3 linked regions of the Homo sapiens genome follow. The protein of the gene in region 1 purifies or fractionates together with the protein of each later gene. This does not show direct contact. Each region holds a gene or a part of one and is shown in the gene's direction. Other genes may lie near its edges.

What was found.
Region 2: the proteins of ATP6V1F (region 1) and ATP6V1A fractionate together in Homo sapiens (co-fractionation; 3 studies listed by BioGRID and IntAct, with this or other methods). This does not show direct contact.
Region 3: the proteins of ATP6V1F (region 1) and ATP6AP2 purify together in Homo sapiens (affinity purification with mass spectrometry; 5 studies listed by BioGRID and IntAct, with this or other methods). This does not show direct contact.

Annotation. Positions count from the first base shown.
Region 1 is NC_000007.14:128,858,240-128,865,890, forward strand, and holds ATP6V1F (V-type proton ATPase subunit F), read left to right. Parts: upstream 1-4,616; 5' UTR 4,617-4,665; coding exon 4,666-4,823; intron 4,824-6,880; coding exon of another isoform or gene 6,881-6,964; intron 6,965-7,137; coding exon 7,138-7,339; 3' UTR 7,340-7,608; downstream 7,609-7,651. Other genes in the region: FLNC (filamin-C), read left to right, coding at 97-284. UniProt on the Homo sapiens protein: Subunit of the V1 complex of vacuolar(H+)-ATPase (V-ATPase), a multisubunit enzyme composed of a peripheral complex (V1) that hydrolyzes ATP and a membrane integral complex (V0) that translocates protons.
Region 2 is NC_000003.12:113,805,942-113,812,571, forward strand, and holds the end of ATP6V1A (V-type proton ATPase catalytic subunit A), read left to right. Parts: intron 1-3,393; coding exon 3,394-3,486; 3' UTR 3,487-6,115; downstream 6,116-6,630. UniProt on the Homo sapiens protein: Catalytic subunit of the V1 complex of vacuolar(H+)-ATPase (V-ATPase), a multisubunit enzyme composed of a peripheral complex (V1) that hydrolyzes ATP and a membrane integral complex (V0) that translocates protons.
Region 3 is NC_000023.11:40,576,911-40,584,000, forward strand, and holds the start of ATP6AP2 (renin receptor precursor), read left to right. Parts: upstream 1-4,059; 5' UTR 4,060-4,155; coding exon 4,156-4,192; intron 4,193-7,090. UniProt on the Homo sapiens protein: Multifunctional protein which functions as a renin, prorenin cellular receptor and is involved in the assembly of the lysosomal proton-transporting V-type ATPase (V-ATPase) and the acidification of the endo-lysosomal system.

The DNA of each region.
Region 1 (7,651 bases):
CTCCCGGGGTGTGAGCAAGAAGCCGTCAGGGAGCAGGGTGTGGGTCACAGTAGGGGACTCCCTGGTGTGAGCCTGTCCCTCTGCCTCCCTCTCCAGGCACCAACATGATGATGGTGGGCGTGCACGGCCCCAAGACCCCCTGTGAGGAGGTGTACGTGAAGCACATGGGGAACCGGGTGTACAATGTCACCTACACTGTCAAGGAGAAAGGGGACTACATCCTCATTGTCAAGTGGGGTGACGAAAGTGTCCCTGGAAGCCCCTTCAAAGTCAAGGTCCCTTGAATCCCAAAAGTGCCTCCCCAGCCTCAGCCCCCACCTCCAGCCACACACACATTACACACACACACACACACACACAAATGTGCCACACCCAGACACGCACAGAATCAGACACTACAAACACCTGCCTTGGGGGTGAAGTGAAGGCCCAGCCTCCCCACCCCACCGCGCCCCAGGGGTTGGAGGACCTTGTCTGTGTCAGGACAGTGTCCCTCCCTGGGAATGTGACATGAGGGCCGACTGGGGCCAGGCTCAGGGGCAGAGGCTGGGACACAAGGGGCTGGCGAGGGCTGCGAGGCCAGGGAAGCCCTGAGTTTCTGGCGGGGCTGAGCAGTGGGGGAGCATTGTGTTGTGGGTGTCTGTGTGTGAGGTCACCCTCAAACTGCACCGCCGGCCAGATACCCTCCTGACCCCGAGGACTTGGTCTGGTCTCTCTGGTGGCTACAACCCCAGAGTTTTAAGGACTTGGAAAGGAAAGCACAATCAGAGAAGAAAACAGCCCCCGAACCAGCAGGAGTGGCCTGGCACATGGACCGGCCTGAGCGATGTGCACTCCACCCAAGCCAGGCTCCCAGGGGGCCTGATTTCTCTCTCACTGTCTCTTTTTTTAAAATGGTTGCACGGCTCTGCCCCATGGGGGGCCTTTTTTACACACTGCGAGGCCCAGCTTTCTAGGGGACTTTTGCACATGTCATGCAGCTCAGCTGGGAGCTGCTTAGGTGGAAAACTCCAAATAAAGTGCGGCTGTCGCAGAGGGTTGGCTGTTCCTTGGGGGTGTGCTCTGTGTGGCTGGCTGCCCTCTGGCCTGCCACACGAAAAACCGGGCCCTGGGGAGGCAGAGGCGGCCTGGCTGTTCCCTGGAAGATTGACCCAGTCGAGGGAAAGGTCCTGGGGCAGAAGTGAGGTCTGGGATGTTGGCAGAGTGCTTGAAAGAACCGGGGGTGGGGGCTCGGGGATGTGGGAAGGGGTCCCAGCGGGAGGGTTCGTGGACAGTACAGGGTGTGGATACTGTGTTCTACAGTACTGTCCCAGGACCCCTGGGAGGCCAGTTTCAGTTCAGCTTGACCTCAAGGATGTTTTTCAAATTAAGACTTTAAAACAGTGAGCACTGACTCAAACAGGAATATTCCTCAACCAGCAGGCAGGCAGAACCACCTGCAGACTCAGCACCTTCCCCCTAGTCAGTTCCTGAATCAACTTGGCCTGTTTCATGCCCCTTTCCAGCACTAAGCTTGCACAGGGCCTCCCTCCTGAACTCCTGCAACAGCCCTGCCCTGGCCAGCTCCCTCCAACCTCCCCTCCATGCTGCAGCTTGGCGGGGGGGTCACTTTAAAGATAGTATATGCCCCTCTCTGGTTTAGGGCCATCTGTGACTCCCTCCTGCTCCAGAGTAAAGTCTCCTCTTCCTGACAAGGTCTCCAGGGCCACCCAGGTTCAGACAGCAGCCTCCCCAGCCATATGAGTTGGGCAGCAGGCCCACTCTCCATTGTGCCCTCCACCTCCAACCCCCCTTCATTACCTCTGGGCACCCATGCTGTAATTTGGGCCCTTGCCCGGAAACACCTTTGCCTCCCCACCCTCTTCATCTTCCTGGCCAACAGGAAGTTTTCCTGGACCCCTCCCTACCCCTCCTGGATCAGTGCCCCCAGCTCCCAAACTGCCCTGGGACACATCTCTAGTTGCAGTTACGACCCTGAGCTGTGGCCATGTATCCACGGCTCCCCACCAGATGGAGCTCCCTGGCCCTGGGTGTGAATGAGTGAGTGAATGGGTATGAATGAATAAATGAGCAGCTGAGTAGCTGCAGCAGGGAAAAGAAGTCTTTCATTCAACTGATCCCACAATCTAGACCCACCTGGGCATTTCAGCACATGGTGGTGGGCTTGGCAGAAAAACCCACGAGTCCCCAACTCCTAATCCCTGACCTCCCCACCTCTCTCACCAGGCTCTGTGCTTCCTCCCTCTTCCCTCACACCCTCCCACACACCCATCCTCACTCTCTGCCCCCCTCACCCTCACCCTCACCCCTAGATGTGCTAATTTCCCCCTCAGCTTCGGCTGCCTCCACCTGTGTGTGGCTGATAAGCTCACAGACCTCCAGCCTGCCTGCTTCCAGCCAGCCACAGTGTGGCCCTGGGTGCTGAGCCTTACAGGCCCTTCCTCATTAATCCTCATAACAGCCCTATGAGGTGGGGCTACTACCATCTGAAGAAACCAAGGCCCTGGGAATTTCAGTGATGAGTCTGAAACCGTACCTTTAAGTAGTGGGGCACAGATTGAAACCCAGGTGTGCCCGAATCCCAAGCTTATCACACATACAATCGCTAGACCAGACCACGGGCACGTCTCAAGCACTCCAAACTCACAAACCCCATGCCAGACACCGGGAGTGCTGATTTGTTAAAAGGGAGGAGGAAAGAGTGGCTCCTTCCCCTTCAGCCTGCTCATCTTACAGAGGTCACTTTCTTGGCAATGTTACTCCCATCCATGTGCTGCACAGGCCAGAAACCTGGAAATCACCCAGGTCTCTCTCTCTACCTCACTCCCCAAACACATCCACTCTGAAACCAGTTTTGTCCTAAATATCTAAATATCTCTCGGCTCTACCTACTTCTCTGCGTTTCCCATTATCACCACCTGAGTCCTGGCCACCATTATCTCTCACAGTGGCCTCCCAATTTGGTTTCTCCTCCCTCAGTTTCGCCTCTGCACACAGCACAGTCAACAGTGAGTGACAGCTCTAAAACGTAAGTTTGGCGATAGCACTCTCTTACTTGAAATCCCTCAGCAGCTTCAGGATAACTGTCCTCAGGATAACTTCCAGATCTTTTTTTTTTTTTTTTTTTTTTTTTAGACAGAGTCTCACTCTGTCACCTAGGCTGGAGTGCAGTGGCGCCATCTCAGCTCACTGCAACCTCCCTTGCCCGGGTTCAAGCAATTGTCCTGCCTCAGCCTCCCGAGTAGCTGGGACTACAGGCACACACCACCTCACTGGGCTAATTTTTTTTGTATTTTTAGTGGAGATGGGATTTCACCATGTTGGCCAGACTGGTCTCAAACTCCTGACTTCAGGTGATCTACCCGCCTCAGCCTCCCAAAGTGCTGGGATTACAGGCGTGAGCCACCGCGCCCAGCCTGCAGATCCTTTTTTTTTTTTTTTAGACAGGGTCTCGCTCTGCTGCTCAGGTTTAAGTGCAGTGCCGTGATCATAGCTCACTGTAACCTTGAACTCCTGAGTAAGCCCTGCTGCCTCAGCTTCTCGAGTACCTGGAACTATAAGTGTGCACCACCACGCCTGGCTAATTTTTTTTTTTTTTTTTTTTTTTTTTTTTTGAGACAGAGTCTCGCTCTGTCACCCAGGCTGGAGTGCAATGGCACAATCTCGGCTCACTGCAACCTCCGCTTCCCGGGTTGAAGCAATTCTCCTGCCTCAGCCTCTCGAGTAGCTGGGACTACAGGCGCCCACAACCACGCCCGGCTAATTTTTTGTGTTTTTAGTAGAGACGGGTTTTCGCCATGTTGGCCAGGCTGGTCTCAAACTCCTGACCTCAGGTGATCCACCTGCCTCAGCCTCCCAAAGTGCTGGGATTACAGGTGTGGCGTGAGCCACCATGCCTGGCCTTACCAATTATTTAACTTTCCTTGAAGGCCCTACGCTCTCTAGTCAGTACGCCTTTGCACATGCTGTTCCTCTGCCTAGAACACCGTCTTGTCCTCACTTCTATCCCCTTCATCCTGCAGGTCCTTCAGGTCTCAGCTTAGATCTGAAGCAAGCTTCTTGGGGAAGGGTTCTTTGGACGCCCCCTCTCTCCATGGGTTAGTTACCATGGATGTGTGCTTCCATATACTTTTCACATTCTAACCATTAACACACAGCTTTGTAGTCGCCTGTTCCCTTGACTTTCCACCTCACTAGGCAGTATCATCATTAACTTTTGCATTCCTTTAACTGAACAAACGTGTGTTACTTGTTAACTATGTGTCATAGTTACACACATACATACACGATAAAGACCCAGACCCTGCCCTTGAGATGAGTAACTGCGTCTCTTCTCTGGGGTCTCGGCGTCTAACAGCGTCAGGTCCAAAGCGCTTGTTGAACGAATGAACCAAGGAACGAGTGAATGAACGAATGAATGCCCGCGAAGGACGTGGTGCCGCGCGGTCTTCTGGGAATCGTAGTCCCCTGGTTCGGGCCTGTCTTTACGGCGCAGGCGTATTCACATGGAGGCCGTGTTGCTGTTAATGCGCATGTCCCGGAATGCGGCTGGGAGGACTGCGCATGCTCGAAGGGTGGGGGTTGAGGCCGACGGGGCGCCGTACGGCGGAGGCGGGGTTTCAGTGGCTTCTGGTGCTCTAGGGTGAGCTCTGCCCGGCTGCAGGGATGGCGGGGAGGGGTAAGCTCATCGCAGTGATCGGAGACGAGGACACGGTGACTGGTTTCCTGCTGGGCGGCATAGGGGAGCTTAACAAGAACCGCCATCCCAATTTCCTGGTGGTGGAGAAGGATACAACCATCAATGAGATCGAAGACACTTTCCGGTACGGTACCGCGCGAGGCCTGAACGGGCCCTTCTGCTGCTCGGTGGAGTGCGGGGCGAGGCTGGAGGCTGCCCGGACGGGGGTGAGGGGACGATCCTGAAAGTCCTTCCGCCCTTCCGGAGCGGAGGCCTCCGCGCCCCAAGTCCCCGTTTGGGGCTCGGTGGGACAGAAGCTGTATCAGGTCCACGAGCCCCCCCACCTCACATGATCGTGTGTCATGAAAGAAGGGGAACAGAGCTCGTGACAGCCTAGACAGTGGGCTTGGACTTTGTTCTGCTTTCTCCTCCTTTAGAGGCTCACCATCGTCCCGTAAGGCAGGGATGATTTTTGTCCTACTCACAGGTGAGAAAACTAAAGCTCGGAGAGGGTAAGGCACACACTAAAGTTACGAGTCGGCAGAGGCAGAGCTAGAATTTGAACCCAATCTCAACCCTTTCTGCCTCCGGTAAGCCAGGTACACACTCTTGGCAGGTCTCCTCAGGCGGCCTCGGAATTTCCTTGTAGTCTTGAGCACAGTAGGCAGAAATGTCGGGACTGTGAGAGCCTTCTGCTAAGACCTTGCACTCAAGCCCTCACTGCCTGCCTTAGGTCAGAGTGTGGGTGCAGGCATGCTTTTAATCCACCAGGGGTCCTGGTGACTGGAATTAAGGATACCAGCCTCCTATTTTATTCCTCACCCCTTCTCCAGGGCCCCTGTACCAAGTCTCAGGAATAAACCACTCACCTGTTTCCCCCAAACAGTCCAGCCCAGGGCTGCTGGCTGAGACTGGTTCCTGCTGCCTGGTGTATTAGGTAGTCCCTGACCTGGGAGGCTGTTATCTGCCATTCTCTAAGCTGTCTGGTAAAGTGACCCAAGTTATCATGGGAGAAGGACAAATTTTACTTCAAGAATTTTTTATGTTTCCAACCAAAAGGGACCTCAGAGATCAAATCTAACCCAGTGACTGGCAGGGGGTGGGTGCTCAGTAAGTAATTTTTAATCAGTAAATAAACGAATGAGTCTGGGTGCAGTGGCTCACGCCTGTAATCCCAACAGTTTTGGAGGCCGAGGCGGGTGGATCACCTGAGCTCGGGAGTTTGAGACTAGCCTGACCAATATGGTGAAACCCCATTTCTACTAAAAATACAAAAATTAGCCAGGCGTGGTGGCGGGTGCCTGTAATCCCAAGAAATCAGGAGGCTGAGGAAGGAGAATTGTTTGAACCTGGGAGGTGGAGACTGCAGTGAGCCGAGATCCACCACTGCACTCCAGCCTGGGTGACAGAGGGAGACCCTGTCTCAAAAAAATAAAAATAAAATAAACAAATGAATGGGTGGGTGACCACAGGAGAGAAGGAGCACAAGGCCAGGTTCTTTTTGTGCAGAAAGTGTGATTCCTTCATCAAGGTGTCCTCTTCCTAGCTTGTGATCTTAGTTCATGCCAAACTTTCCCTCTGACCCCTCCACCACCCTCATCAGGATAGACCTTGAGGCCTTCAGTGGTCTCATCAGCCCTATTTTTAAATAATTTGTTTTCTTTTTAAAAGTTAATGTGTCTTTTTTTTTTTTTTTTTCTGAGACAGGGTCTCACTCCTGTCACCCAGGCTGGATTGCAGTGGCGTGATCGCAGCTCACTGCGGCCTCGACTTCCCAGGCTCAAGTGATTCTCCCACCTCAGCTTCCTAAATAGCTAGGACTACAGCTTCCCAAGTAGCTGGCACATGCCGCCACATCCAGCCATTTTTTTTTTGTGTGTATATATATAGATAGATAGATAGATCCGCCACATCCAGCCATTTTTTTGTGTGTGTATATATAGATAGAGAGAGAGAGAGAGAGAGAGGGAGATGGGGGTCTCACTATGTGGCCCATTCTGGTCTCAAACTCCTGGGTTCAAGCAATCCACCTGCCTCGGCCTCCCAAAGTGCTGGGATTACAGGCGTGAGCCATCACAGCTGGCCTTCAGTATCTGCACATAAAAAGGGATCTGCATACATATAATCTTATCCTTCCCCTTTCTGACACATCACTGCATATTGAATACACCAGTGTGCACCCTAATCAATCTTCATTACCAGTTCACTTGGAAGCCTTCCGGGCAGTGTTGTAGAAGCCAACCCTAATCAGCGTGACCCTCCGCTTTGGGATGAAATTGATTCTAGGTAGGGTTGACAGAGGGTTGAGCGTGGCAGCCTTTCCCCTTGTCCTCTGTGCCCTCTGGGTCATGCTCATTCCCCTCCACAGCCCAGCCCAACAACTCGGAGAGGGCTGCCTGGGTAGGAGAGACGGCAGCCCCCAGAGCTGTCCTGGACTCCCTTCTCATCTCTCCCCACAGGCAATTTCTAAACCGGGATGACATTGGCATCATCCTCATCAACCAGTACATCGCAGAGATGGTGCGGCATGCCCTGGACGCCCACCAGCAGTCCATCCCCGCTGTCCTGGAGATCCCCTCCAAGGAGCACCCATATGACGCCGCCAAGGACTCCATCCTGCGCAGGGCCAGGGGCATGTTCACTGCCGAAGACCTGCGCTAGGGGACTCCTCATAGCCCTCAGCCCTTCCCTCGTTTCCAGGCCTCTCCCCAGGCTTGCCATCAGCCTTCTTTACTTTTTGAGCCTCTGATTTCCAATTCCCTGCTCCTTCCCACTCCATTAAGAGGCTAGGTGAGGCGCTTCTAGGTTGCTGGGGCTCTGCTGGTTAAGGAACAGGAAGCCTGACCATCTCCCTCCACTACCTCTTCCCTGTGCTGTTACACAGTGTCATTGTTGATGTTAAATTAAAGTCATATTCTTGCTTCTCTCCAGATGGGTTGGGTGCTGGAAAGGACATGTGTGGGGTGAGGCCAT
Region 2 (6,630 bases), on another chromosome or scaffold:
CAAAGTTATGTTCAAATAGGAATTCTAATGATAAAAATTAGTATATCAGCCAGGCATAGTGGTTCTCATGCCTGTAATCCCAGCACTTTCAAAGGCTCAGGCAGGAGGATGACTTGAGCCCAGGAGTTCAAGACCAGCCTGGGCAACATGTCGAAATCCCGTCTCTACAAAAAATACAAAAGATTAGCCAGGTGTGGGGCACACACCTGTAGTCTCAGCTATCTGGGAGGCTGAGGTCAAGGCTGCTGCAGTGTGCCATGATCCCACCACTACTCTCCAGCCTGGGCAACACAGTGAGACCCAGTCTCAAAAAACAAAAAAAATTAGTATGTCACGTCTAAAATAAATGCTGATGTGTATTCCCTTTTGTCTTAGTTGCCAGGCAAATTAGAGCTTACTTCATAGCTGAGCAACAGTTGCCTTACTCCAAGTGCCTATTAACCTCTAGCACATGTGTTCTTCTGAAATGACATCTTCTCTGTTTACTTCTTTTAAATATCATGTACTGCAGGTCATTTTTTAACTTTTTTTTTTTTTGAGACAGTCTTGCTCTGTCATCCAGGGTGGAGTACAGTGGCACAATCTCGGCTCACTGCAACCTCCACCTCCTGGGTTCAAGCGATTCTCCTGCCTCAGCCTCCCAAGTAGCTGGGATTACAGGTGCCTGCCACCACGCCCAGCTAATTTTTTGTATTTTTAGTAGAGACGGGGTTTCACCATGTTGTCCAGGCTGGTCTTGAACTCCTGACCTCATGTGATCTACCCGCCTCGGCCTCCCGAAGTGCTGGGATTACAGGCGTGAGCCACCGCATCCAGCCATTTTTTAACTTTTAAGTGGCCTCTTGTTCTTTTGGAAGTACACAAGATAAAAATAGATAATTAAATGAAATTATTAGTAGGAACTCAAATGTATAAGATTGTTTTTAAAATATTTGATCAGTTGAATTGTATTTATTTCTGTCATGACATCCAGGCATATTTACTAACCACCTACTGAGAATGATTCTCTGAGTGTATATGTAATATAAAAATTTTTAAATTATATATATATTTTGTGTGTGTGTTCACACTATAGATTGAAAGTAAACCTGTACAAATAGGTAAGCACTACATTGAGAGTTTAAAAACATTTACACCTTTTTAGTCTTGTCATTTCACCTTGAGATAAATAAACAAAGGAAGTAATCAGAATTTTGATACGGATATACACGGTCGTTTATTAAATTCTTTTTCTTTTTTTTTCTTTTTTTTTTTTTGAGATGGAGTCTTGCTCTGTTGTCCAGGCTGGAGTACAGTGGCACGATCCTGGCCCACTGCAACCTCCCCCTCCCAGGTTCAAGCAGTTCTTCCTGCCTCAGCCTCCCAAGTAGCTGGGATTACAGGTGCATTCACCACACCCAGCTAATTTTTGTATTTTTAGTAGAGACGGGGGTTTCTCTATGTTGGCCAGGCTGGTCTTGAACTCCTGACCTCAGGTGATCTGCCTGCCTCAGCCTCCCAAAGCGCTGGGATTACAGACATGAGCCACTACGCTAAACCAAATTTCTTAAATGTCACCCAAGAATGAACAGAGCCAACAGTACATTATGGTGTGTCCATAAGATAGATATTATGAAGGCATTACCATTTTTGTCAAAAATATTCAAAGACATGGAGAAATGCTTATGGCACAGAGTGAAAAAACTTCCATATGTAACTTGATCCAAATATTGTCTTAAAAAACTATATATTCATAGAAAGAGGATGAAGAAGAAATATACCTGTAGTAATGATGATTTCTATTTACATGCTTATTGTGTCAAATTAACATCACAGGTATTTTTTAATGTCATTACTCTTCTGTAGCATTGTTTTGTGGCTGGAGAGTAATATTTTTCTATTCTTAGACACTTAGAAAATTTCCAGTTGTTGGCCGGGCGCATTGGCTCACGTCTGTAATCCCAGCACTTTGGCAGGCCGAGGCGGGTGGATCACCTGAGGTCAGTTCTAGACCAGCCTGACCAACATGGAGAAACCCCGTCTCTACTAAAAATACAGAATTAGCTGGGCGTGATGGTGCATGCCTGTAATCCCAGCTACTCAGGAGGCTGAGGCAGGAGAATCACTTAAGCCCGGGAGGTGGAGGTTGCGGTGAGCTGAGATCACACCATTGCACTCCAGCCTGGACAACAAGAGCAAAACTCTGTCTGAAAAAAAAAAAAAACAAAGAAAAGAAAAGAAAATTTCCAGTTATTGGTGTGGACAACCATGTAGTTGTGTGTAGTTGGTTTTGTGCATTTTCTTAGTATGGAGTCCCAGAAGTGGAATGATTGGGTTAGAGACCTGGAACATTTTAAAGTCTGTCTCTTTTTTTTTTTTTTTTTTTTTCTGAGACAGAGTGTCACTCTGTCACTAGGCTGGAGTGCAGTGACGCGATCTCAGCTCACTGCAACCTCCGCCTCCTGGGTTCAAGCGAGTCTCCTGCCTCAGCCTCCCAAGTAGCTGGGACTACAGGTGCACGCCACCATGCCCAGCTAATTTTTTTGTATTTTTAGTAGAGACAGGGTTTCACCATGTTGGCCAGGATGGTCTCAATCTCCCGACCTTGTGACTCGCCTGCCTCGGCCCCCCAAAGTGCTGGGATTACAGGCGTGAGCCACCAAGCCTAGCTAAATTATCTTTTATACATATTACTCAGTAAGTTGCCTAAATTTTACTTTTCCATCCCAGTGTGATAATACCAGATGTTGAGCAAATTCTGTTTTGATTAAATTAATTCCTAATTATCATGCATTAAGTCATGTTCATCTAATATATGAAGCGGCATAATTTCCCACTATTGTGCACATTGTTGAGGATAAAGGCTTTGGTCACTGAATGTGGTTATCAGGCAAAATGCAAAATTAAAATTTTGTTTTCTTTCTGTTTGGTTGGATTTGTATCCTTAAGAAAAAGGGAAAATGAGTATAGTTTTACCTCCTGCCTGTGGTTTACCAGTGTCCCTCACTAAACCTAGTACTCAAAATATATAAAATACGAGTAACCTGGGCCAGGTGCAGTGGCTCACGCCTGTAATCCCAGCACTTTGGGAGGCCGAGGCAAGTGGATCACTTGAGATCAGGAGTTCAAGACCAGCCTGGCCAACATGGTGAAACCTGTCTCTACTAAAAATATGAAAAAAAAAATTAGCTGGGCGTGATGGTGGGCGCCTGTAATCCCAACTACTTGGGAGGCTGAGGCAGGAGAATCACTTGAAGCCAGGAGGTGGAGGTTGCAGTGAGCCAAGATCGTGCCACTGCACTCCAGCCTGGGTGACAGAGCAAGACTCTGCCTCCAAAAAAAAAAAAGTAACTTAACATACGTAATGAAAATTATTTTCCAAATGCGAGTTGAATTTGTAATGTCTTCTTTCAGGATCCACTGAAAGATGGTGAGGCAAAGATCAAAAGCGACTATGCACAACTTCTTGAAGACATGCAGAATGCATTCCGTAGCCTTGAAGATTAGAAGCCTTGAAGATTACAACTGTGATTTCCTTTTCCTCAGCAAGCTCCTATGTGTATATTTTCCTGAATTTCTCATCTCAAACCCTTTGCTTCTTTATTGTGCAGCTTTGAGACTAGTGCCTATGTGTGTTATTTGTTTCCCTGTTTTTTTGGTAGGTCTTATATAAAACAAACATTCCTTTGTTCTAGTGTTGTGAAGGGCCTCCCTCTTCCTTTATCTGAAGTGGTGAATATAGTAAATATACATTCTGGTTACACTACTGTAAACTTGTATGTAGGGTGATGACCCTCTTTGTCCTAGGTGTACCCTTTCCTCATCTCTATTAAATTGTAAACAGGACTACTGCATGTACTCTCTTTGCAGTGAATTTGGAATGGAAGGCCAGGTTTCTATAACTTTTGAACAGGTACTTTGTGAAATGACTCAATTTCTATTGTGGTAAGCTCATTGGCAGCTTAGCATTTTGCAAAGGAATTGCTTTGCAGGAAATATTTAATTTTCAAAAACATAATGATTAATGTTCCAATTATGCATCACTTCCCCCAGTATAAATCAGGAATGTTTGTGAGAAACCATTGGGAACTATACTCTTTTTATTTTTATTTTTTATTTTTTTTATTATTTTTTTTTTGGGGACGGAGTGTCCCTCTTGTTGCCCAGGCTGGAGTGCAATGGCGTGATCTTGGCTCACTGCAGCCTTCGCCTCCCGGGTTCAAGTGATTCTCCTGCCTCAGCCTCCCGAGTAGCTGGGATTACAGGCATGCTCCACCATGCCCAGCTAATTTTGTATTTTTAGTAGAAACGGGGTTTCACCATATTGGTCAGGCTGGTCTCGAACTCCAGACCTCAGGTGATCCGCCCACCTCGGCCTCCCAAACTGCTGGGATTACAGGCGTGAGCCACCGCGCCTGGCCAGGGACTATACTCTTTTTAAAATAGACATTTGTGGGGCTCACACAATATATGAAATAGTACCCTCTAAAAAAGAGAAAAAAAAAATCAGGCGGTCAAACTTAGAGCAACATTGTCTTATTAAAGCATAGTTTATTTCACTAGAAAAAATTTAATATCAAGGACTATTACATACTTCATTACTAGGAAGTTCTTTTTAAAATGACACTTAAAACAATCACTGAAAACTTGATCCACATCACACCCTGTTTATTTTCCTTAAACATCTTGGAAGCCTAAGCTTCTGAGAATCATGTGGCAAGTGTGATGGGCAGTAAAATACCAGAGAAGATGTTTAGTAGCAATTAAAGGCTGTTTGCACCTTTAAGGACCAGCTGGGCTGTAGTGATTCCTGGGGCCAGAGTGGCATTATGTTTTTACAAAATAATGACATATGTCACATGTTTGCATGTTTGTTTGCTTGTTGAATTTTTGAACAGCCAGTTGACCAATCATAGAAAGTATTACTTTCTTTCATATGGTTTTTGGTTCACTGGCTTAAGAGGTTTCTCAGAATATCTATGGCCACAGCAGCATACCAGTTTCCATCCTAATAGGAATGAAATTAATTTTGTATCTACTGATAACAGAATCTGGGTCACATGAAAAAAAATCATTTTATCCGTCTTTTAAGTATATGTTTAAAATAATAATTTATGTGTCTGCATATTGCAGAACAGCTCTGAGAGCAACAGTTTCCCATTAACTCTTTCTGACCAATAGTGCTGGCACCGTTGCTTCCTCTTTGGGAAGAGGAAAGGGTGTGTGAACATGGCTAACAATCTTCAAATACCCAAATTGTGATAGCATAAATAAAGTATTTATTTTATGCCTCAGTATATTATTATTTAATTTTTTAGGTAATGCCTATCTCTTGGTCTATTAAGGAAAGAAGCAATCAGTAGAGAATTCAGGATAGTTTTGTTTAAATTCTTGCAGATTACATGTTTTTACAGTGGCCTGCTATTGAGGAAAGGTATTCTTCTATACAACTTGTTTTAACCTTTGAGAACATTGACAGAAATTATGCAATGGTTTGTTGAGATACGGACTTGATGGTGCTGTTTAATCAGTTTGCTTCCAAAGTGGCCTACTCAAGAGGCCCTAAGACTGGTAGAAATTAAAAGGATTTCAAAAACTTTCTATTCCTTTCTTAAACCTACCAGCAAACTAGGATTGTGATAGCAATGAATGGTATGATGAAGAAAGTTTGACCAAATTTGTTTTTTTGTTGTTGTTGTTGTTTTGAATTTGAAATCATTCTTATTCCCTTTAAGAATGTTTATGTATGAGTGTGAAGATGCTAGCGAACCTATGCTCAGATATTCATCGTAAGTCTCCCTTCACCTGTTACAGAGTTTCAGATCGGTCACTGATAGTATGTATTTCTTTAGTAAGAATGTGTTAAAATTACAATGATCTTTTAAAAAGATGATGCAGTTCTGTATTTATTGTGCTGTGTCTGGTCCTAAGTGGAGCCAATTAAACAAGTTTCATATGTATTTTTCCAGTGTTGAATCTCACACACTGTACTTTGAAAATTTCCTTCCATCCTGAATAACGAATAGAAGAGGCCATATATATTGCCTCCTTATCCTTGAGATTTCACTACCTTTATGTTAAAAGTTGTGTATAATTGTTAAAATCTGTGAAAGAATAAAAAGTGGATTTAAATTAACATTTTTTTCTTTTTCTCTTTTTTATGGCACAATCTGCTAGAAAATATGTACCTTGTATCTTGACTTAATGTTTTGGTATGACCTTTTAAAATTTTTTCCTTCCTTTTTTATAGATTGTTACTTAAGATTATGAAATTGAATTGGAGCCCTCATTATAGCCTGCAAAAAGTCCCATAACTGTATCACACTATGTTTTGGAAATATAATCTACAGAATCCCATCCCATTCTGAATTTTACTTTGAGAAAGTGAATGGTTTCTATAAATTCACTTCTAAGTGCAAGGAAATCAGTGGTACTCTTCAGTTTTTAACAAGTAAACTAAAGCCTTGTAATTTATGATTTTGCAAGCCAATTTAAAGTCCAATATAACAATGTGCAACATCCTTTGTAGCAATTCATTATGGTACGTAGGATATATTTTATTTCCTTAAATGTTGTATTTTTAACAATTTCCAAAGGAGTGAAGAAGCAGTGTCAAAGAACTGTATATTACCATTGAGTCTGAAGTTTATG
Region 3 (7,090 bases), on another chromosome or scaffold:
ACTTTTGTCATCTATGCTGGATTCTTTAAAAATATAGTTTCTGGGTTTTTTTTTTTTTTTTTTTTTTTTTTGGAGATAGCGTTGCCCTCTGTCACCCAGGCTGGAGTGCAATGATGAGATCTTGACTTACTGCAGTCTCAACCTCCTGGGTTCAAGTGATCCTCCTGTCTCAGCCTCCCCAGTAGCTGGGACTACAGGTATGCGCTACCATGCCTGGCTAATTTTTTTTTCTTTTGAAACAGGGTCTCACTTTGTCGCCCAGGCTAAATTGCAGTGGCACAAGCTTGACTCACTGCAACCTCCGCCTCCCAGGTTCAAGCGATTCTCCCGCCTTGGCCTCCCGAGTAGCTAGGACTACAGGCACGTACCACCATACCTGGCTAATTTTTGTATTTTTTGGTAGTGATGGGGTTTCACCATGTTGACTAGGCTGGTCTTGAACTCCTGACCTCAAGTGATCCACTCGCCTAGGCCTCCCAAACTGCTGGGATTACAGGTGTGAGCCACCGCGCCCAGCCCAGACTTTCCTTGTTTTTGATGACTTCTGAGGAGCAGCAGTCAGATATTTTGTAGAATGCCCCTCTATTGGCATTTATCTGATGTTTTTCTCATGATTACACTGGGGTTATGGGTATGGGGGAGGAAGATCATAGAGGTGAAGTGCCTGCCATTATCATTGTATCACATCAAGGGCACACACTGTCAACATGACCGATCACTGTTGGTGTTGACCTTGATCACATCGCCTAGATAGTATTTGTTGGGTTTTTGCACTGCAAAGCTGCTCTCCCCTCCCCCACACCTTTCCATAGTGTATATAGTACCTTTTGAAGAACATAAATTCTTAATTTTAACTGCATGGTCTGGGAGAGGGGCATGATCTTCGCCTCCACAGGGCTCCTGGATGGGATGTCTCATTTGCAGGGATCAGCTCATGTTATCGCGCTCACTCCGGGATCACTCAGAACTCACTGCTGGACTTAATTGGGGGACGAGGGCGAGACTTAAGGAAGCAAATGGAATTATGTATTCTTTCAAATCTTGCATCTGGACCTCTAGTTTTGAAACTCAAGAGCCAAGAATTTGACATTTGTTTTCAGGTTCTCCTGAGAGTCCTCCCCTCAGGGCAACGGATGGCTGCAGTCTTGCCTATTTGGCCTGTGGGGAGGGTGGAGAAAGGCTTCTTTTAGGCTAACAAATGGGGTCATAACTTCAAATATTGTATTACCCTGCTACACACATATCCATCTCTAAATGCTTCAGTGGAAAAGTTAACCGCACATCACCAGTTGTTTACTGAGCGCTAAAGATTGAATCAGCAGGGCTGCATTCACGAAGCAGAACTGCTGACGATTCAGAATATGACCTTGAGTACATATGCCCTTCCCTAGGCTTCAATCTCTCAATCTATGAAACAAGGAGAGGGCTTCCGACAATGTTTATCTTGCTAAATTCCAAGGTTGTAGAGAACAACAATGCCCCTTTGCAACCTCAGGTGAAAAGGGCCCTTAGGTGTAAAGAATACACTATTCGCTGTTAGCTCAAAAGGGGATGTTATTTCTCAAGACATAAATGGATTGTGAAAGATTGTGAGGTTTTCTGGGGGAATGGGGGGGTGGGGACTTATTTTATATTCCAGTCTATTTACAAATTTTTTCATCTTCCTCAAATTCAAAGAAATAAGAATGTACTAGAAGTCTTAAGAACAGAAACATTCACTCCTTTCCCTGTTTCCTTAAGCTGGATGAAATGGCAGGAGGTCTGCTCCACTTTTAGCTGATTATGTCCCTAAATAAGGTTTAGATAAGTTCTTGCAGGGCCTGTGATTCAAAACCTGTTCTAAGACATGCAGGGAGATGGACAAAGAATTTTAGTTGGTGTGAAAAGATTGTGAATTTATCATGCTTAAAAATGAATTTTTAAAAATGATTAATTTTTTTCCGCCGGGAGCAGTGGCTCACGCCTGTAATCTCAGCACTTTGGGAGGCTTTAGTGGGTGGATCGCCTGAGGTCAGGAGTTCGAGACCAGCCTGGCCAACATGGTGAAACCCCGTCTCTACTAAAAATACAAAAATTAGCCGGGCGTGGTGGTTGGCGCCTGTAATCCCAACTACTTGGGAAGCTGAGGCAGGAGAATTGCTTGAACTCGGGAGTTGGAGGTTGCAGTGAGCTGAGATCGCACCACTGCACTCCAGCCTGGGCAACAAGAGGGAAACTTCGTCTCAACAACAACAAAAAAAGTGATTAATTTTTTTCGAGTCAGTCACATTAGAGTGGATGTTTTGGAGGGGTGCTTTAGACATTTTGGTTCTAATAATTTCACATGCCTGATGGAAAAATCTCTCTTCTCCCTTTCAGAGTTCTCTAAAGTCCCATTTGTACAAATTCTCCTCTAGAGGAAAAGCAAGTTTGAGAGTTTCCTGTTTCTTGACGTTAGGTGAGGAAATCGACTCTGTTCCCTAAATTTGAGAGTGGCTTTGGTAAGCATAGTGTGTTCTAGAAAGTTCAAACTATTTAGTGAGTGTTTCTCTTTTTTTGCTTTCTTTATTTTCTAATAATAAAAAGACAGGGCCTCACTATGTTATCCAGGCTGGTTTTCAACTCCTGGTGTCAAAGGATCTTCCCACCTCGGCCTCTCAAAGCGCTGGGATTACAGGTGTGAGCCACCACACCTGGCCTCGAGAGTGTCTTTCTGATTCAGTTTTCAGTTGGGCAAGGTTTTCCTAGGGTGGGTCTGCTACCTGGGGAACTCCTGGGGTCACTGTTTTTAACTCGCTCTCATTTTTTCATCCTCAGGAAACTCCAAGAAGAAAATGGGACTGGAAACTGAAGAAACAGTAAGGCATTCCCCCCCTCCCCCCCGCCAATAAGTCTGTCTTACATTTGTGCAGTAAATCATGCTCAAACGCCTTCAATGGCTTAGTGTAGGTCTCTTATGTACAATTTAAAATCCTCAATAAATGTGCCTAACTGAAAGTTTTAGCTCTGTGCCTCCTCTCTCATATAATCTCTTATTTGATTACTGATGCTTAACCTGACGGGGCTTTCTCCCCACCTTAACTACAGTTTTCACTGGAACAATCTCCCCATCTCCTATCCTTGGATATGAAATCATTTCCACCTTTCAAGGTCATCAGCTGGGGCGTCATTTTCTACCTACAGACGCTATAGTGTGTCCCTTCTTGCCTCACATCATAGGCAAAAGACTATGAACTGCGGGAGGGGAGGAGCCTGGTCTAATTACTATGTCTAGCCTTCATACATCCTCATAGAACACCTTGCCCAGATTGGAAACTGAGTGAATGGACAAATTAAGTAATTAATTAACTTTCTGTCCCATGACTCCTTGTAGATTGGAAAGTCTTTGGAGGTAGAGTTGCCAGACTTAGCGAATCAAAATATAGGATACCCAGTTATATTTGAATTTCAGATAACCAGTAATACTTCTTTTAATACAAGTATGTCCCATAAATTAATTGCGACATAATAACAAATAATCGTTGTTTACATGAAATTCAAATTTAACTGGGCGCCCTGTATTTTATCTGGCACCACTATGTGGAAGGCAGGGGTTCCCCGTTGCGCCTGGCTTCTTCCCAGTAGGTGCTCGGCGTCTGTATACTTGTTAGAGCGAAACCCCAACCAGCCCCGCCTTTCACAGCTGGCGTCCGTAGCCGGGCGGAGGCACACGACCAGGAAAGACAGACACCCTGGTTGGAGACCGTCGCTCGAGACTGGCAGAAAGATCTGCACTCGGGAGGCACCCTCACCCCGTGGGCTCCGGGACCCCTCGACTAGCTCCATCACCCATTCCGACTACCCGCCCTACGCTCCACCTCTTGACCCGTCATCACCGACCGGGGGGCGGGACTGCCCGACTTTTCAATCGCTGCCTACCATTGGTAGAACTCTCCATCCGTTACTTTAAGTCCCGCCTATCAGGCTGTCGCTTCCCAGGTTACGTCCCTTCCGTAGGCCGCGGCGTAACTGGTGATTGGTGGAGAAAGCGGCAGCTGTCCCAGCGGAAGCGACGAAGGGACGGGACCCGGGAGCCTGGACGAGTCCGAGCGCGTCACCTCCTCACGCTGCGGCTGTCGCCCGTGTCCCGCCGGCCCGTTCCGTGTCGCCCCGCAGTGCTGCGGCCGCCGCGGCACCATGGCTGTGTTTGTCGTGCTCCTGGCGTTGGTGGCGGGTGAGGAGCCGGGGGCCGGCAGGACGTGCCTGGGGAGGTCCTGCGCCGCGGGGCTTGGGGGTCGGGGGCGGCCGCGGGCGAGTAGCTGCGAGGCAGGTGCCGCAGTGCGGTCCGTCAGCGGCGGCCTCGCCTCAGCCGCGTCCCCGTCAGCATCTTCTCTGGATCGGCCGTGGCGGCGCGGCCTCACGGGCCGCCGGGGCCGGGGCTGGGCTGCGTAGGGGGCCCCTGAGCCTGCCTCCACCCTCCACTTTGAGGGCGGCGCGTCCGGCCGGCTTCTTGCGCCTGAAAAGGCCCTTCAGAGTACGGAGATGCATTTCTCAGTGAACTGGGATTGAGTCGCAGCCCGCTGCGAAGAAGAGAAGGCAGACTTTTTAGCTGCCACTGGCTGCCACGATGTTTTTGCATTTGTATGGTGCCTTCATTTCTAGTGGTTGTCATCAGTAATTGCTGAAATCCCTGCCCCTCCCTTCCCTTATGTATATTTCCGGATGCAAAAGTTGAGATGGAGTCATTATTTTTATATGACTTATATTTCTTAAGGCGAATACAAAGCACCTCTCAATAGTTTGTCAGAGTTCCAAATTTTAAGGATTTGGAAACAGGATGTGAGTCGCATTTTTAGGGTCACATGTCAATAAATGGTAGCTTTCTGAGTAGAACCTAGATTCCTAAGCATTCAGCAAGAGGTGAAGAAATCAGCTAATACGTGGCCTCTTACTGCATATCATGTGGTAATGTATTTCATTTGACAGCAGTCCTTAGAGGGCATCATCTTTGTTTTGCAGGGTGATCAACCTAAATAAATTACCCAACACTAAACAGGTTGGGTGCTGGATTTGATTTCAGATGAGGTGGTGCCAGCGCATCGGCCTTTTCCATTATATATGTTGTGTTGCACAAGTAACGCTATTACTGTGTGAGAATGTGGGAGTGATGGGGACTGAGACTGGAGGCACAGACAGTAGTGAACAAGAGGCCAAGTTGAGAACGGCTTGGAGGAATGGGTGCTCTGATCTCAGTGTGTCAGTTTAAAACCTATGGGAGGCCGGGCGCGGTGGTTCACGCCTGTAATCCCGGCACTTTGGGAGGCCGAAGCAGGCAGATCACCTGAGGTCAGGAGTTTGAGACCAGCCTGGCCAACAAGGCAAAACGCCATCTCTACTGCAAATATAAAAATTAGCCGGGTGTGTTGGGGCACACCTGTAATCCCAGCTACTCAGGAGGCTGAGGTACGAGAATCGCTTGAGCCCGGGAGGCGGAGGTTGCAGTGAGCCGAGATCGCGCCATTGCACTCCAGCCTGGGCGATAGAGCCAGACCTTGTCTCAGAAGCAAAAACAAACATACAAACAAACCAAAAACCTATGTGAGGTGTTGGGAGGTCCTGCTTGTGGAATGGCGATTTAATTCTGCACCAGTATGCTCTTGAAATCTGCAGATCTCTGTCCCTAGAGGTGCGGGGGTTTTGTGTGTTAATGATAGTTACGTTGTATCCATGCCCCAAACGTTTTCGAGTTCTTTGTTTCTTTCTTCTGTTTCTGGCTCTGGAAAGGTCTTTCTGATCTACTGAGATACTTTGAGGGAATTAATTTTAATTCAGTTTTTGAAATTTTAAAAATATTCCCTTTGATCCTGTGGTTTAACTGAACATCTATTGAGATTCCATGTTTTAATATTTTGACTGATATTATTTTGATTCAGTGAGGTATAGGCTTTTTTGTTTTGGGTCTGAGATAAAATAATTGCTTCTGCACATGGTTTGAACATGTTTTCCTTACTAGCATAGCCGAGTTCATACAGAACAAGAACCTGATCCTGTCAGCTTCTGAATTGCTCAGTCTTGTCAGATGAGGTTCAGTTATTATTTTCCACAATGACTAAATGTGATGTAGTGGAAAACATCTTTAAGAGCTCTGACTTCTCTATTCCAGGCAGAAACAAAAATAGAAATCCTTTAAAACAGTGTTGCCAAACTAGAGGGAGAACTAGGGACCTAGAGAGAGAGGAAGGGAACTAGGATTTTGAATACCATATCATGAGGCGTATTTGATAAAATTCAGATATTTAGCCTGGAGAAGAAAGGCCAAGGGTGAACACATGGAATTTGAAGTGATGTCATGTAGAAGAGGGAGATAGGATCCATTTTTTTATTATTATTGATTCCATCCACCATTCGTAGACGATAATAGCACAGTATAGTGGAGTTCCTAGAGGGAAGGACACTTAGCCCAGACTGGGGAGGCTGAGGAAAATTTCCCATGGGAGGTGCCTCCCAGGGCTAATGTGTTGAAAAGTTGGGGTGGGAAGAAAAGGTATTTGAAACAGAACAGCATGTGTAAAAGCATGGCGATGTGAGAGCAAAGGGGCAAGTAGTTTGGTGGGGCTGAAATGTACAGGATTAAGTTGGGGAGATACCAGAAATAAGGCTGATGAGGTTTCTTGGGTGTTAATGCTTTGGGTTTTGCCTCAGAGTCTCTGGGCAGTGAGAGAAGGCATTTAAGCAGAAGGGTGAATGATCAGATCTGTATTTTGAAGCAGTTATGGGAAAGGCTGGATTAGAGAGTGGCATGACAAGGGTCATAAGGCACCCAATTCTAGCAAACCTGGAGAGGGCCTGAAGAGTGTGCCCTGGACATAGAGGGGAAAGGATTTGTGAGATAAGAAAAAAAGATGAAATTCAGTGGCTAATTAGCTGTGTTGCTGAGGAAGATTTAAAGACGACTGATTCCAGCCACTGGGTGGAAGGAAGGTGGTATCATCCTTCAAGATAGAATACAGGAGAAGTGTGTGGAAAGATGGTGAATTGGGTGTGTTTTTGGTGTTTGCAGCCTTAGGAGTAGTTGGGCTCAGCCTGGGAGAGATGTAGAATAGGAAAGCAGTAAGAGTCAAGAATGGAGCCC